Homo sapiens: one gene and its partner. The protein of the gene in region 1 binds, or shares a complex with, the protein of each later gene. Links are inferred from orthologs where the notes say so. Each region holds a gene or a part of one and is shown on either strand. Other genes may lie near its edges.

Region 1 (7,576 bases):
ATGCCAAAGGGATTGCTCAACCCCCTCAGAGCCATCTGTTTTCTTCGTGGCCAGGCCTCTGCAGGGAGTCAGGTGGAGCCCTGGCAGCACCAGCCAGCAGCCTGTGTCCCTGGAGGCCTCTCTCTCTCTCCCTTCCACTCAGATGTGGTTCTTCAGTCACTGGCTCTGCTCTGGTGAATGCACTCCTTGAGAAAATAAATGTTAACCCTGTAATCCAAAATGATGAGCGCCGTTTACACATTTGCTCCTGAGCAGAAATGTCCCAAGGATTCTCATCCCCCCATGAAGTGCAAAATGGGCCGCAGACACCGGGCTCTGCCCTTTCTCGCCTCAGTCTGCAAGGCTGCCAGCAGGCTTCCCAGTGCGGATCAGTTTCCTAATGATGTGGCTTCATCTCTATTGGAGCCAAATGCATTACCAATGTTGGCCTACGGTCTAGAAGCATCTGCATTTCCTCCATCGTTGGGGAGAGAGAGGGGAGAAGGAGGGAGCCTGTGTGTAAGGGACAGGCTTGACCCCAGAGGACTCCGGGCACTCCATAAGGAAGGCTCCTGGGCTTTGCCTTTGAGAGGCTACCAAAACCCGTGGCTGCTCAGTCCAAGCTCCCTCTATAGACACCGAGTGATAATTGCTCAAAACCCAAAGTGCAGAATCTCAACTCTTGGCCAACTTGATTTAACCACTTGCACCTTTAGGTGCTGTTTATGTGTTTGGTCATTTATTTATTATAGCATTGTTTAGTGTTGTTATTATTGCTTATTTATTATAGAGAATTTCTGCCATTTACCTAATTTCTCACTCTACTAATTCAGATGATGAGATCAATAGTCAAAAAGGCAGCCTGGGAGACCACGGCTTTCTCTTTCATCACCTGGCAGAAGGGAAATATGCCCCCTCCTGGGCAGCTGGACTCCTCCAAGTACATGGGTGCTGGAGGCCCCAGGCTCAGTCCTAGGTCCATTGTTTCTCTCTGTGTCTCTGTAGCATGTCTTTGAAGCTGTAGGCTGCTCTGTTACTTTTAATCGTGTTTAAACATCATCACTGATGCCCAGGCACAACAGTTTACAAGGCAGTCTACCTCTCCAGACACATGACCACAGAGAAGGCAAAACATTTGCTCAAGGTCACCAAATATCAGGAGCAGCTGCCCAGCTACTGTAACCTTTCACTTCCTATTACAGCATACTGAACACGGCTCCTGCAGCTCCTGAGAGCACCCTACACTGGTGTCTGTCCTACAAGGGTTAGAGAGGTCGCTGCATCAGGCCAGCTGACCCTCCCTGCAGCATGTGCCTGCAGGGCACGTCCTGACAGAGGATGACCACCGGCGGTGGAATCACATACAGGGAAATAGGCCAGCACTTCAGCTCCCACCTCACACCCCACCTACCACCATGCTCCTGCTATTTGGGTGACCTGCACGTCCTTCCTAATGACAAAAGACAGGGGATTTGTGTGTATTTCAGCTTACCCTCTGCACAACACATCCTCTTGAGACTAGAGCCCCAGTGGCCAGGGAAGGTGGGAGCCACAGAGAAGAACCAACTCCCACACTTGGGAGATGACCATTCTGCTCACAAGCACCTGGCCAGGGGCTGCCCTCTCTTTCCCTTCTCTGAAAATCTCTCCCCATTTCCTGTCTAACTAGGAGGCATATGCGCAACCCTGTTTGAAGACCTTCCTTCCCTCACCCAGCAGTAAACACCATCTGGGCCACCTGCTGTATCTGCTGGGGTGCATGGCTTTTCTAGGGACGCTGGATTGACAGTGGGGTGAGATGGTCACTGGGCCTCGGGTAACAAGGTCCCCTGTCCCACCACTGAACATGAGCATCCATGAGTAATATTGTTCCCGCTGCCGGGTTCCTGCTGATCCAGCCCCAGCCATGGCGGAGCCCCAGGATCACAGCAGGTCTGGGCTGACCCTGGCTGACCCTCACCTCCACCACTCCCAGGAGAGTCCTCTGGGTGCCCTGCAAAGGCCCAGAGTTTTCTGGTGTTTCTGGCAAAGCTGCCACCTCGCCATAAGGGCATTTGCCACAGGGTCACCTTCAGGCATGGAGGGTGGGGTTGAGAGAACAAAGGGAGCAGCTGTCTGTTCAGAGCCTCCTTTCCACCCTCGCCACTCCTGGAGTCACATTCCAGCCCAGGTCCGCAGCATCCCAAGCTGGGGACTTTGTCACCCCACAGGGCACCCAGCTGATCAGGTCCTCTCAGTCTGGGGAGAAGAACTCACAATCCTGGCAATGAAGGAACTCAGGGCCCACTGGAAAGCCACACTGAGCAAAGGACAAAGACACACCCAGGCTTGCTCTGCAGGACTCCATTTCTGGGAAGCTCAAGGACAGGCGACAAACGAGTCTATAGGGCAGGATGGGGGCTGCCAGGGCAGGATGGGCATGAGGGTGAGCTGCAGAGGCAGGAGGACACACCGTCTGGGGCAAGGCAGATGTCACAGGTCTGGACAAAGTGGTAACACGGGTATATGCGTTAATGAAATCCCCCAGATTAGACATTTTGTTGTCTATAAATTCTACCTCACTCACAGTGATGTTCTAAACTCAGGTGAGTTTTCCAAGCAGTGCAGAGGACCAGCGCCAGCAGCATGACGCCCAGAGGGGAGGAGCAAGAGACACCCGTGGGCTCCCACATTCATCCTGTGGCTGCTGCTCCCTCTCCTGACACCCCCACTGCCTGCCAATGGGTCTCACTGCACCTTCCACCCGGCCCCACCCACAGTTACCATGAGACTCCAGATCGTTCCCTTCCCTGCTCACACTCCCTCCAGGAGCTTCCTCTTCCTGGAGCAGGCATGCCCAGCCCCGCCTCAGGGCCTTTGCACTGGCCCTTCCCGCTGCCTGGGGCTGTTTCCTGTCTAGGCAGGGCTTCTCACCTTTCCAGTCTCATAGAGTCCTCCCTGACCAGGTCCAGTGGCATCATCTCTCTCTATCCCATACTCTCACTTCCAACAGAGAGACTAATTTCCTGATATTAATTATTGATCACTATTCGCCATCCTCCCACACACCCTAATGCTGGGCTGTGCAGTGCCACAGCCACCAGCCACATGTGGCCACAGGGTGCTTGAAATGGGGCCAGTACAATTGACACCCACATACACAGGGAATTTCAAAGACTCAGTACACACACCCAAAATAAAATAACCTATGTTATTAATGATTCTTCTTATGTGTTGAAATAATATTTTGGATATATTAGGTTAAGTAAGAAATATTATAAACATTACCTTCACCTGTTTCTTTTTTACTTTTTGAAATGTGTCTCCCAGAAAGTTTTAAATTGCTCCTGGGTTCGTGTCACATTTCTGTCTGGCAGCAGCCCTGCAATGTAGTGTCCATGGCTCGGTCACCCAGGCTCCGTCTCTAGCTCCTAGACTACCTGGTGCAGGGGGAAGCTGGTGAAAAGTCTGTTTACTGAATAATGAGTTGTGAAAGGAGAACCCAGAGTTTTTTACTCAAATAAAGGTTAATTCTTCTGTTTGAAAAGTTCCCTAGCACAGGGCATGGCCTGAGTCTCCTGTGGCCTCTGGAATCACACCTCTGCCTTAGTGATTTCTAGACCTTGACCAAATGCTCACGGATACTCAGGACCTCTGAAGACTCCGGAAGGCCGAGACCTCTATCTTTCCCTTTTCTGAGGAAATGAAGCTAGGGGGTCGTATGCTTTTAGGGCCCAGGGGGCCTTGACACCTCTCTGGAGGGCAGGGTGACCTAAGCTTGGGAGGAGGGACAGGTCTTTGGGAAGAGATGGAGCTGAGGGGGTGGAGTGGGTAGAAGGGGGGCATAGGTGTGGAAGGGGTGGGGGAAGAGGGGCCAGGAGTGGGGTGAGAAGAGGGGAAAGAAGAGGATAGGAGGGACAGGGACAGGGAGAGGCCAGGAATGGGTAGGAAGGGAAGACAGAGGAGGGGCGGGACGAGGGAGGGGCGATGAAGAGGGGCCGAGCTGGGGTGGGGGCGAAGTGGGAGCAAGGACAGGAGTGGAGGAGGGAGATGAGGGGCATGGGAGGCGGTGTCTGGGGGTTGAAAGGGGAAAGGGACAGAGGAGAAGGAGCCTGAAGAGTGGCGGCATGGAGGGGCCCGAAGTGGGGAGGTGGGAATGGTCGGATGGATGGGGAGGAATGGGGAGGATAGGAGAGGCAGGGGAGGCTGGAAGACAGTAGGAGAGGAGGGGGAGGGGAGGGGAGGGGATGGATGGGAATGGATAGGGAAGGCCAGGGAGACTGGGGGGCCAGGGGAGGAGGGGAGGGAGAGGGGAGGCGGGAAGGGAGAGGAGAGGCCGGGAGGGGCTGGGAGGGGAGGGAAGGGGATGGATGGGGAAGGACAGGGAAGCCTGGAGGGGCAGGGGAGGCTGGGATGGGAGGAGACTGATAGGGAGGGACCTGGAGGCGGGGAGAGGCAGGGGAGGCGGGGAGAGGCAGGGGAGGCGGGGAGGGAGAAGGGAGGTGGGAGGGACGAGGCGTTCCGGAAAAGGGAGTGCAGGCCGCGGTGGGGTGGGGCGGCGAAGGCCGGAAGGGATAAAACCGCAGTCGCCGGCCTCGCGGGGCTCACGGCCTCGCCTCGGTATCGCAGCGGGTCCTCTCTATCTAGCTCCAGCCTCTCGCCTGCGCCCCACTCCCCGCGTCCCGCGTCCTAGCCGACCATGGCCGGGCCCCTGCGCGCCCCGCTGCTCCTGCTGGCCATCCTGGCCGTGGCCCTGGCCGTGAGCCCCGCGGCCGGCTCCAGTCCCGGCAAGCCGCCGCGCCTAGTGGGAGGCCCCATGGACGCCAGCGTGGAGGAGGAGGGTGTGCGGCGTGCACTGGACTTTGCCGTCGGCGAGTACAACAAAGCCAGCAACGACATGTACCACAGCCGCGCGCTGCAGGTGGTGCGCGCCCGCAAGCAGGTGCGTGCCGCCCCCCGCAGGGTCCGAAGCCCCGGCCCCGCCGTCCCAGCCTCCCCCCGCGCTGCTCCCGGACCCCGTGCTGCTCCTCTCCGGCGCCTGGGCTTCTCACCCGGACCCTGTTCCCGGTCTTCGCTGTCACCCCCGAGCCCTTGGCGGGCGTGTCCGGGAATGCCCTGAGTCTGGCCTGGCCTGGAACCGCACGGACACGTCAGGTCCGCGCCCGGCGCCTAAGATCAGCTTCCAGGAGCCAGCTCGAGCTGCGCCGCAGCGCGGGGGCAGGCACAGGACGTCCCACACAGCTCTGTCCCGACCTCCTGGGACGCTGGGCTCCGGGTGCGCTGCTGAATACGCAGGAGAAGGAAAAACAGAGCCCCTCATCTGGCTGCCTCCTTGTTCTTCCACCAAATAATTTTTAAGCACTTTTGTTTCTTTTAACTTTTTATTCTCCCGTAATTTCAGACTTACAGAGCAGCTGCAAAATAGCACAGGGCATCCCTGTAGATCTTTCACCCAGATCCCTCAGATGTTAGCACAGATGTTAACATTTTGCCCTGTTTGTTCCCCCCAGCTCACTTTCCGAATGTGAATATGGGTGTGTGTATATGTACTGTATATGCATTTTTTGCCTGAATCTTTTGAAAGTAAACACTTCAGTGTGTTTTTCCTAAAAACAAGGGCAATATCGCACATAATCACTATTCCATTTTGAAAATCAGCACTGACACATTCATGATCTAATGCTCAGACTCATTCAGCTTTCCCTGTCTGTTGACGGCCTTCGTGCCCTAGGACGCTCCTGGGCCATGAGTGCATGAGTTCAGCCCTGTCCTGTCCCCTCGGCCTCTTTTAACCTGCAGCAGCAGCTGGGTCTGTGCCACGACCGTGCCATTTCCCAGGGTCTAGCAGGTGTGGATGGAGACTATGCTGACTCTGGGTGGGCTTGATGCTGCTCAAGATGAGATCTAGGCCATGCGGCTCATCCTCCTCCCAGAATACTCTCCGCAGGGGCCACACGTGAGCCTGGCACCTTGTCCTGCAGAGCCCTGCTTCCCTCCCCAAGTCACACCCCTGGGCACAGTCCCCTAGGACTAGCGGCCTTCACCCTCAGGCCGGCTGACCACCCCCTACATCCCAGGGCAGCTGAGTCCCTGCTGGGGTGGAGCATGCCTGACCCTGCCTCTATCAGCTGATGCAGAGTTAGACCTCAGCCAGATGAAGACACCCAGCAGACCGGAGTAGGGGGTCGGATCGGGAGGGAGCTTCAGTAGGGCTACCAGGCCCAGCTTGACCTGCATCCCATGGCAGAGCAGCGAACAGTGACACAGACTTTAGAGCTCCTCCACCTTCTCTTGGAAATTCAGAGGAGTCCAGACCAGCCGCGTTTCTCCCGCAGCCGTCAGCTGGGGCCCTCTCCCTGCACAGGAGGGCCATTCCCTGGTGTAGGGTCCCCGCTGGCCTGCACCTCTCTCTCACTGGGAGTGAAGCATGGGGCATTGTAGATCGTTGGGCCCTGGAGCCTATTTTACAGAGGAGCAGACTGACACCAGAGGGATCACAGGCCTTGCTTGTGCTTCTACAGGACTTGTGTGTGGTTCCACAGGGCAAGGTCTAGCACCCTGGTCCCAGGGTCCCTCATCCCATGCTTCTCCACAGTTCTGACAAGTCATGTTTTGGGGCGGCACTGTGCAGGGAAAGCATTCAGTTCTCTTCTGAAGTTGCAACCCTAAGACATGCAGGTGTGTGACTCACTTTAGAAATATTGCCTTGAAAATCACACCTGGAATGGAAGCACGTGGGAAGCAATGTTTATTGGCCTAAAACATCAATGTATGTGAGCATCTCATCTCCTAGTGAGAAATGAGGAAAAATACCTCTGGGTTAAATGGCAGGAATGAGATGCTCTGTGGACTGAATGCCAGGAACTGGAAGTTTGCCGAAATTTCATCATCACATGAGAACCTTCCTAGAATAGATCCAGTGTCCCTGCCCCCTGGGTCATAGGTAGCGGAATTCAGTTAATCCTTGGCATTGGCATAGAGAAACAAGTTACCGGGGAGGCCTGGGGCATGGCATCCCTGCCAGCTGGCAGGAGGAGGTGGCTTGTGTGCCTTGCAGGTGACAATGTGGGCAGCTCATGAAGGTAGGCTTGAAGCCCCAGGCAAGCCCAGTGACCCGGTCACAGTGAAGTGCCTGTGTGTGTAAGAAACTGACAGAACGTGCTGTCCCTGCCTCCTGCTCTTTCACATGTGTAGATCGTAGCTGGGGTGAACTACTTCTTGGACGTGGAGCTGGGCCGAACCACGTGTACCAAGACCCAGCCCAACTTGGACAACTGCCCCTTCCATGACCAGCCACATCTGAAAAGGGTATGTGCCTTATATGGGTCCAGGGCCAGTCATACACTGCAGAGGGGTGTGTGTGTGTGTGTGTGTGTGTGATGCACATGTTCTGCAGGGTACGTGTGCATGTGCCTGAGTGTGTGTACACGTGGAGATGCATATGTGTTTCCAAGTATAGGTTTGTGTGGGGAAGTGCACGTGAGTGTGTGCAAGTGGGTGTGTGGATGTGTTGGGGAAGTGTGGGGGTTTATGCATGGATAGGTGTGGGTGTGTGAGTATATGTGTGTGCACATATGTGTGGGGGTGTCTGTGCACATACATTCACATACATGGGGGT
Region 2 (6,880 bases), on another chromosome or scaffold:
GACCCAAACTTAATCTTTTTCTTTTATCAGGAGATGCTGTCCATGCTGGGAGATCAGAGCAACAGCTACAACAATGAAGAATTCCCTGATCTAACTATGTTTCCCCCCTTTTCAGAATAGAACTATTGGGGTGAGGATAAGGGGTGGGGGAGAAAAAATCACTGTTTGTTTTTAAAAAGCAAATCTTTCTGTAAACAGAATAAAAGTTCCTCTCCCTTCCCTTCCCTCACCCCTGACATGTACCCCCTTTCCCTTCTGGCTGTTCCCCTGCTCTGTTGCCTCTCTAAGGTAACATTTATAGAAGAAATGGAATGAATCTCCAAGGCTTTTAGGACTGTCTGAAAATTTGAGGCTGGGTGAAGTTAAAACACCTTTCCTTATGTCTCCTGACCTGAAATTGTATAGTGTTGATTTGTGCTGAGATCAAGAGGCAGGTTAGAAGAACCTGACATCCACTGTTTGCCTTGGATAGTATGGCTTGTTTTTGGAAAGAAATTCTGAAGAGAGTGGAGGAGAGGAGAAATGTCCTCATATTTGAGGACCATGAAACATTGTAGGTATATATGGGGCTTTAGCAAGTTTGAGCATAGGCTCTTTTTGCTGCCTGTGAGCAGTCCCTCTGGAAAGAAACATGTGAGTAAGTGAGAGAGAGTGTGTGTGTATGTGTGTGTGTGTGTGTGTGCGCACACATGCTTCTGTATTTCACTCTTTCTCCCTATTAGGGAGTTATGCAAAATTTGTCCCCGATTTTACCTTTGTCTTTCTGTGTACTTTTCAAAGAGTCCTAAGGAGTTAAATCTTCCAGGTATTTTCCACTTAGTATTGCAGCCAAAGAATATTTAAATAAACGTCTTTGCTGCGCTTGCATCCATGCCCAGCCAATATACAACTGTAAAGCAAATATAGAAAGTCGGCTGTTGATACGATTGTCTGTTATCGAACACATTCAGTGATAAAGCTGGGTTACTGCTGCTTTTGGTGCTCTCACCTTATCTGGAAGATCTGCAAACATTACCTAAATAGGCTGGCAAGATAAACACTTTCTGGAACCCGAGACTTGGCCATAAAGATAATGCTGCATTTTTCTGTCAGAATCACATATGATGTGTGTTCTGTAGAGGTTATTTCTGCATGGAAACTCAACTTCTTGGATTAGCCGTCCCAGTGAAAATCCTCATTGTTGGAGTGTAAACCAAATACGAAGCCCTCTTGCAAAGTAGCCTCTTTCATCCCATACTCAAAATACCCAGTTTAGCAAGCAACTGAGATTTAAGTCTCTCTGGCCCTAAGAGGTTTTTCCTCTTTGCTCCCTCCAATCTTGAGATTGGGTTTTGCTTTAGAGTGCAAGTATCATAATTCCGTATGATAGATGGGGCCTGGACACCCATCTCAACAGGGTCACTTGGTAATTAACAATAGCCATATAAATGCGGATACAGGTTACTACCCTCACCCTTTACCTTCCTCAGGTAACAGTCGTAGATACCAGCTTTTTTTTTTTTTTTTTTAAATTGGCTTTGGCCAGTAGCTAAAGTGCAAGACTGAATTAATGAGAAGATATATTAAATGTAGTCATAGGGGACTGAGGAGCAAGGGTGGCCTTGAAGAGGCCAAAGGAATGTCCATTTGCTGAGTTTCCCTTCCTTATGTCTCCAGTCTGGTGCCAGGTAGTGGAGTAAAAAAGGAGACAGTTTATTTTTTTATTCTATGTGCACACTTACAGTATACATATATATTTATATCACAATTTACGAAACCAAAAAGTTGAGTTTCCAATGGAACCCTTGTTTTTTAATAATCGACTTTTTAAATGTGATCAGGACTATAATATTGTACAGTTATTATAGGGCTTTTGGGGAAGGGGAGGATAGCGAGAAGATGCTCTGGGGGTTTTGTTTTTGCTTTTCCTTCAGGGTTTTATTTTTGACTGTTTTGTTTTCTTGTTGGCCATTTCTGTATTGCTGGCATCTGTGCTAAGCTTTACAGTGGCAAAAATAATGACATGTAGCAAAGATTTTCAAACAAAATATTTTTTCCTTTTGTAAAATTTCTTGTGTTGTGTGATCTTGATTGCGGCTTTATCATTCCTTTCCAGTTCATAAACAACAGGCACCCACAACCAGAGGAATCTATAGTTTAAGCTCCAGACATACAAACATAAGGCACATTGTGTCTTTAATTTCAGGAATCAGAAATCATAGGGTTCTGATCACATTGCACGCCTCCCCCCTCACTTGTCCTCCTGATCCTGACACATTCTGAGTAACATCAGCAGGAATGCTCTGACCATGAGGTGGGGGTTTTGGGGTGGGCGTTGCCTGGGTTCTTGGGAGAGAGGGGAAGAGTCGGGACTTGAAAACCACTAGGGCACATCTGGATGCCTTCCCCCAGTATGTCCTTTTCTGGATTAAAATGAGTGAAATTTAAACTGTTCAAGTCTGGACCTGGTTTCCCTCTAGGAGACTATGTTGGTTCATTAGCAACTTTTTTTTTTTTTTTTTTTTTTGTGTGTGTGTGTGTGTGTGTGTGTGAGAGATGGAGTCTCGCTCTGTTACCCAGGCTGGAGTGCAGTGGCACGATCTTGGCTCACTGCAACCTCTGCCCCTTGGGTTCAAGCAATTCTCCTGCCTCAGCTTCCCAAGTAGCTGGCACTACAGGTGTGTGCCACCATGCCCAGCTAATTTTTGTGTTTTTTTTTTTTAGTAGAGATGGGGTTTCACTATATGTTGGCCAGGCTAGTCTCGAACTCCTGACCTTAGGTGATCCACATGCTTTGGCCTCCCAAAGGCCTGGGATTACAGGCGTGAACCACTGCGCCTAGCCTGTTAGCAGCTCTTAAAATCCAGAGGCATAAGCCTGTATTTTTGAGGGTTTATGCATGGAATCCAGCTAGAAACTGAGTCTATTACAGATCCCATTTATTATCCTTTCTATTCCAAGAAGCCTTTTTTTCTCCTTCCCCACATCTGTTTATGGAAGAAAATGAAGTTTGGGGTGTGGTTTGAGGAATCAGCTAGATTCTTATGATCTGTCACATGCTTGGATGTTGGGGAAGCATTTGGAGAAGCTCATGTGACTTGTCCTAGATTGGGGATTTTAATTGAGACAGATGATGTTTATCGGGCATCCCACCACCTGAGAGTTTTAGCAACAGAGTCACATGTGAGTCCATCAGAACTTACGGCATTGATTCAAGTGCTGTCATAAATAACCAGGACTGCTGTTTTTGGTTACTTTTAAAGACAGTTTCATCTGGACTTTCTGGGCATATCCTCCTTCAGCAAAACCACATTAGGCTGGGAAAACTATTCTGCCTGGAAGTAATGACAACTTGCAACCAACAAGCTTATAAAAATACAAAGAATTCTGGAGCCTATGGCTTCCATTACATTATTCTTTTATAGCCTTTTATGTTCATTACCGCATCCCAGAGGTGAGAGTCAGACACAAATATGAAAATAGGTTTCAATGTTGGAGAGGTAAATCCTAACAGGAAAGGGGTAGGAAAAGATATAATCCCCCAATATTAAAATAAAGATATTGAAGAAGAAGGATGGGAGAGACTAGGGCTGTGTCCTTCCTTTTACTCACCAAAAGAGAAAGTAAGCTCCTATTTGAGTCAATAGATATTGAGGTCTTGTTATTTGCCACCAAAGACAGTCTTGTGAGACTAAATAGCTAGTAATTCCCTACCCTGGCACACATGCTGCATACACACAGAAACACTGCAAATCCACTGCCTCCTTCCCTCCTCCCTACCCTTCCTTCTCTCAGCATTTCTATCCCCGCCTCCTCCTCTTACCCAAATTTTCCAGCCGATCACTGGAGCTGACTTCCGCAATCCCGATGGAATAAATCTAGCACCCCTGATGGTGTGCCCACACTTTGCTGCCGAAACGAAGCCAGACAACAGATTTCCATCAGCAGGTAACGTTTGCAACTTCCTAGATCTTTTAGCTTTTCATTCCTGTCAATTCTCTGAGTATTAGGGATGTAGTGACTTGAGGATCACAATAAACTTTTAGCCTCTGCAGATGAAAACAGAGATGCACTTCTTAGGTCATTCCCTGGCTAAATAAAATCTGCCTGGAAATCTGTAGAATTCCTTGTATGATTTATATATATACATACATGATTGTTAGTAAAAGCAAAGTATATAGGGAATCATTTCCCCATCCTTCAAGAGTGGCCTTTCTGCAGTGTTTTCTACTTTGGCCAACAAGGATCAAAACGGTTAACTCCTTAGTGAGGAGGAGGAGAGTGGTATGGGGAGGTAGTAGCTCAGTGCTTCCTGTTCACTGAGACATCTCAAAGCCCTTAACACTCTAGTTTTTAAATGTCCTACTGGACATTTTGCCAGTTTGCAAAATTACATGTAAATGGACTATAAGCAATTGTGTAAGCCATATGTCATGCTGCAGGCTGCAAATTGTTCTTAAAATGGAGGATTTGTAATTAAGAAAGCCAATGCAAGAAATGAGTGAAGCTAACTAGAGTAAACTTATGAAAAGCTGTGAATTTCATCATCATAGAACATTGCTTTTCAGTCTGAACATTCTTCTAACAAACCTTGGATCTGAGGCTTCTTGTCCTTTGCGGCAGCCACAGTGGGTTTTTGTTGTTAGGGGAAAAATAAAAAACCTTGCCCGCAGCATCTGGTTAAGATTAGGGCAGTTTCCTGCCTAAGGAGGGAAGGGAGAGAAAAAGGAAGAAGAAATGCATAAGGAGAATGAGGAGATATACAATGTCTCAGAAAACAGGAAACATTGTCCTATTTTCCCTTGTCCTCTTCTGACAAGATCTGGGAAAGTACCAGAATTTAGGCACGAAAGAGAAGAACGCCTCGAAGAAATGATCAGGAGGCAAAACTTAGACGGAAATCTCTCCTTTGTGTATTCTGAACCCCACTACCACCTTGCTATTTGTCTGTCTCCAAGCCTGCTAGGGACCCTGGAGGAAACGCACTGAGCCCATTCTGATTGTCCAGTTTCTATCCCCCATTTCTGGTTGTGTACGTGTGTGTGTGTGTGTGTGTGTGTGTGTGTGTGTGTGTGTGTGTGAGAGAGAGAGAGACAGAGAGAGAAACAGAGAGAGTGTGTGTTGCCTAAATCTCCCGAGAGAGAGAGAGAGAGAGAAAGAGAGAAATGGCTAAATCCCCCTAGATCAAAGTCCTTGGAACCAGATGTACCAGCATCCTATCTAAACACAGGCCCCTCCTGACTATCATTGTTTTATCACCCTTTTTCCGTCTACCTTTCTCTTCCTCATAAAGCCTAGTTTTCCTCTGTTTCCCTGCCAAATGGAAGAGTTTTCCCTAACTACATTCTTCTGCAGGATGTGGGGGCTCAAGGTTCTGCTGCTACCTGTGGTGAGCTTTGCTCTGTACCCTGAGGAGATACTGGACACCCACTGGGAGCTATGGAAGAAGACCCACAGGAAGCAATATAACAACAAGGTGCCTGGGGTCCTGGAGGGGGCATGGCAGGAAGGCTGAGACCTGAGCTCTCTCATCTTAGCTTCCAGACTCCCTTCTTCAATCCAAATGCTTTATTCCAAGCAAATCAGTCCCTCTTCCCTAACTCATGTTAACATACGGTTTTCATTCCTATGCTTCAAATCATCCTCTGTCAAACTGTATCCTTCCTTTGCTTTATAAGTGTGTTACATTTCTCTTTTGGGAAGAGTTCTAAGATTAATGCTGTTAATCTATAAGCAATTTTTCTGTCTCTCCAGAGCTTTGTGTTGTATTTGTTTACATATTATCTCTTCTTGCAGGCTCTTAATTCCATGGTTAGTTCCCCAACTAAACTGTAAACTTTTATGATTGTGAGTTTCCTTTATTCTCCTAAAACCCTTCACAATATTACATATGTAACTGTAGACAGTCTATACAAGTACTGACTATGCTTTGTTTAGGTGGATGAAATCTCTCGGCGTTTAATTTGGGAAAAAAACCTGAAGTATATTTCCATCCATAACCTTGAGGCTTCTCTTGGTGTCCATACATATGAACTGGCTATGAACCACCTGGGGGACATGGCAAGTATAGCTTCAGCTCCTGTCCCACCTGCACCATTTGCTTTAGTTCCCTGCTGATGCCTGGCCTCTTTCTTCTTTGTCTTAGACCAGTGAAGAGGTGGTTCAGAAGATGACTGGACTCAAAGTACCCCTGTCTCATTCCCGCAGTAATGACACCCTTTATATCCCAGAATGGGAAGGTAGAGCCCCAGACTCTGTCGACTATCGAAAGAAAGGATATGTTACTCCTGTCAAAAATCAGGTACTCTCCTTTCTTCTGGGTGTGCATATGTAATCTGGCATGACCTTTTCCTTTTTCTGCTGCTTTGTTCTTGAGGTGAAAGGGCACCAGGAAAAGAGGGCAAGGAATTAAGGTACATCTCCCCATTCCCATTCTGTTATTTAACCTCATTTGTTTCTGTACATTTGGGTTGTTTCTGGTTTTTCTTTTTCTTTTCCTTTTTTTTTTTTTTTTTTTTTTTTTGAGATAGAGTCTCACTCTGTCGCCCAGGATGGAGTGCAGTGGTGCAATCTTGGCTCACTGCAACCTACACCTCCCGGGTTCAAGCGATTCTCCTGCCTCAGCCTCCTGAGTAGCTGAGATTACAGGCACGCGCCACTACGCCTGGCTAATTTTTCTATTTTTATAGAGATGCGTTTTCACCATGTTGGCCAGGCTGGTCTTGAACTGACCTCAGGTGATCCACCTGCCTCAGCCTCCCAAAGTGCTGGGATTAGAGTCATGAGCCATCGCGGCCTGGTTTTTCTTTATTACAAATAGTGTTGCAATAAGCACCCTTGTGCATATGTTTTTGTGCACATGTACAAATATTTATGCAAAATAAGTCCTAAAATTGGAATT

Evidence for each region. Proteins that work in one complex are often made in the same cells at the same time.
Region 2: the proteins of CST3 (region 1) and CTSK are in contact, whole or in part, in a crystal structure (PDB 8V57), measured with the Mus musculus proteins. The link is inferred for Homo sapiens from one-to-one orthologs. Residues at the interface, in NP_034106.2 of Mus musculus: Pro27, Arg28, Met29, Leu30, Gly31, Ala32, Pro33, Gln75, Leu76, Val77, Ala78, Val80, Asn81, Tyr122, Pro125, Trp126, Lys127, Thr133; in NP_031828.2 of Mus musculus: Asn132, Gln133, Gly134, Gln135, Cys136, Gly137, Cys139, Trp140, Glu173, Asn174, Tyr175, Cys177, Gly178, Gly179, Gly180, Tyr181, Met182, Ser248, Ala251, Ser252, Gln257, Phe258, Val274, Asn275, His276, Ala277, Ser297, Trp298, Ser301, Trp302.

What each region holds. Positions count from the first base shown.
Region 1 is NC_000020.11:23,634,944-23,642,519, reverse strand, and holds the start of CST3 (cystatin-C precursor), read left to right. Parts: upstream 1-4,564; 5' UTR 4,565-4,657; coding exon 4,658-4,900; intron 4,901-7,152; coding exon 7,153-7,266; intron 7,267-7,576. UniProt on the Homo sapiens protein: As an inhibitor of cysteine proteinases, this protein is thought to serve an important physiological role as a local regulator of this enzyme activity.
Region 2 is NC_000001.11:150,805,261-150,812,140, reverse strand, and holds the start of CTSK (cathepsin K preproprotein), read left to right. Parts: upstream 1-3,880; 5' UTR 3,881-3,927; intron 3,928-5,334; 5' UTR 5,335-5,335; coding exon 5,336-5,455; intron 5,456-5,916; coding exon 5,917-6,039; intron 6,040-6,124; coding exon 6,125-6,280; intron 6,281-6,880. Other genes in the region: ARNT (aryl hydrocarbon receptor nuclear translocator), read left to right, coding at 31-120. UniProt on the Homo sapiens protein: Thiol protease involved in osteoclastic bone resorption and may participate partially in the disorder of bone remodeling. Displays potent endoprotease activity against fibrinogen at acid pH. May play an important role in extracellular matrix degradation.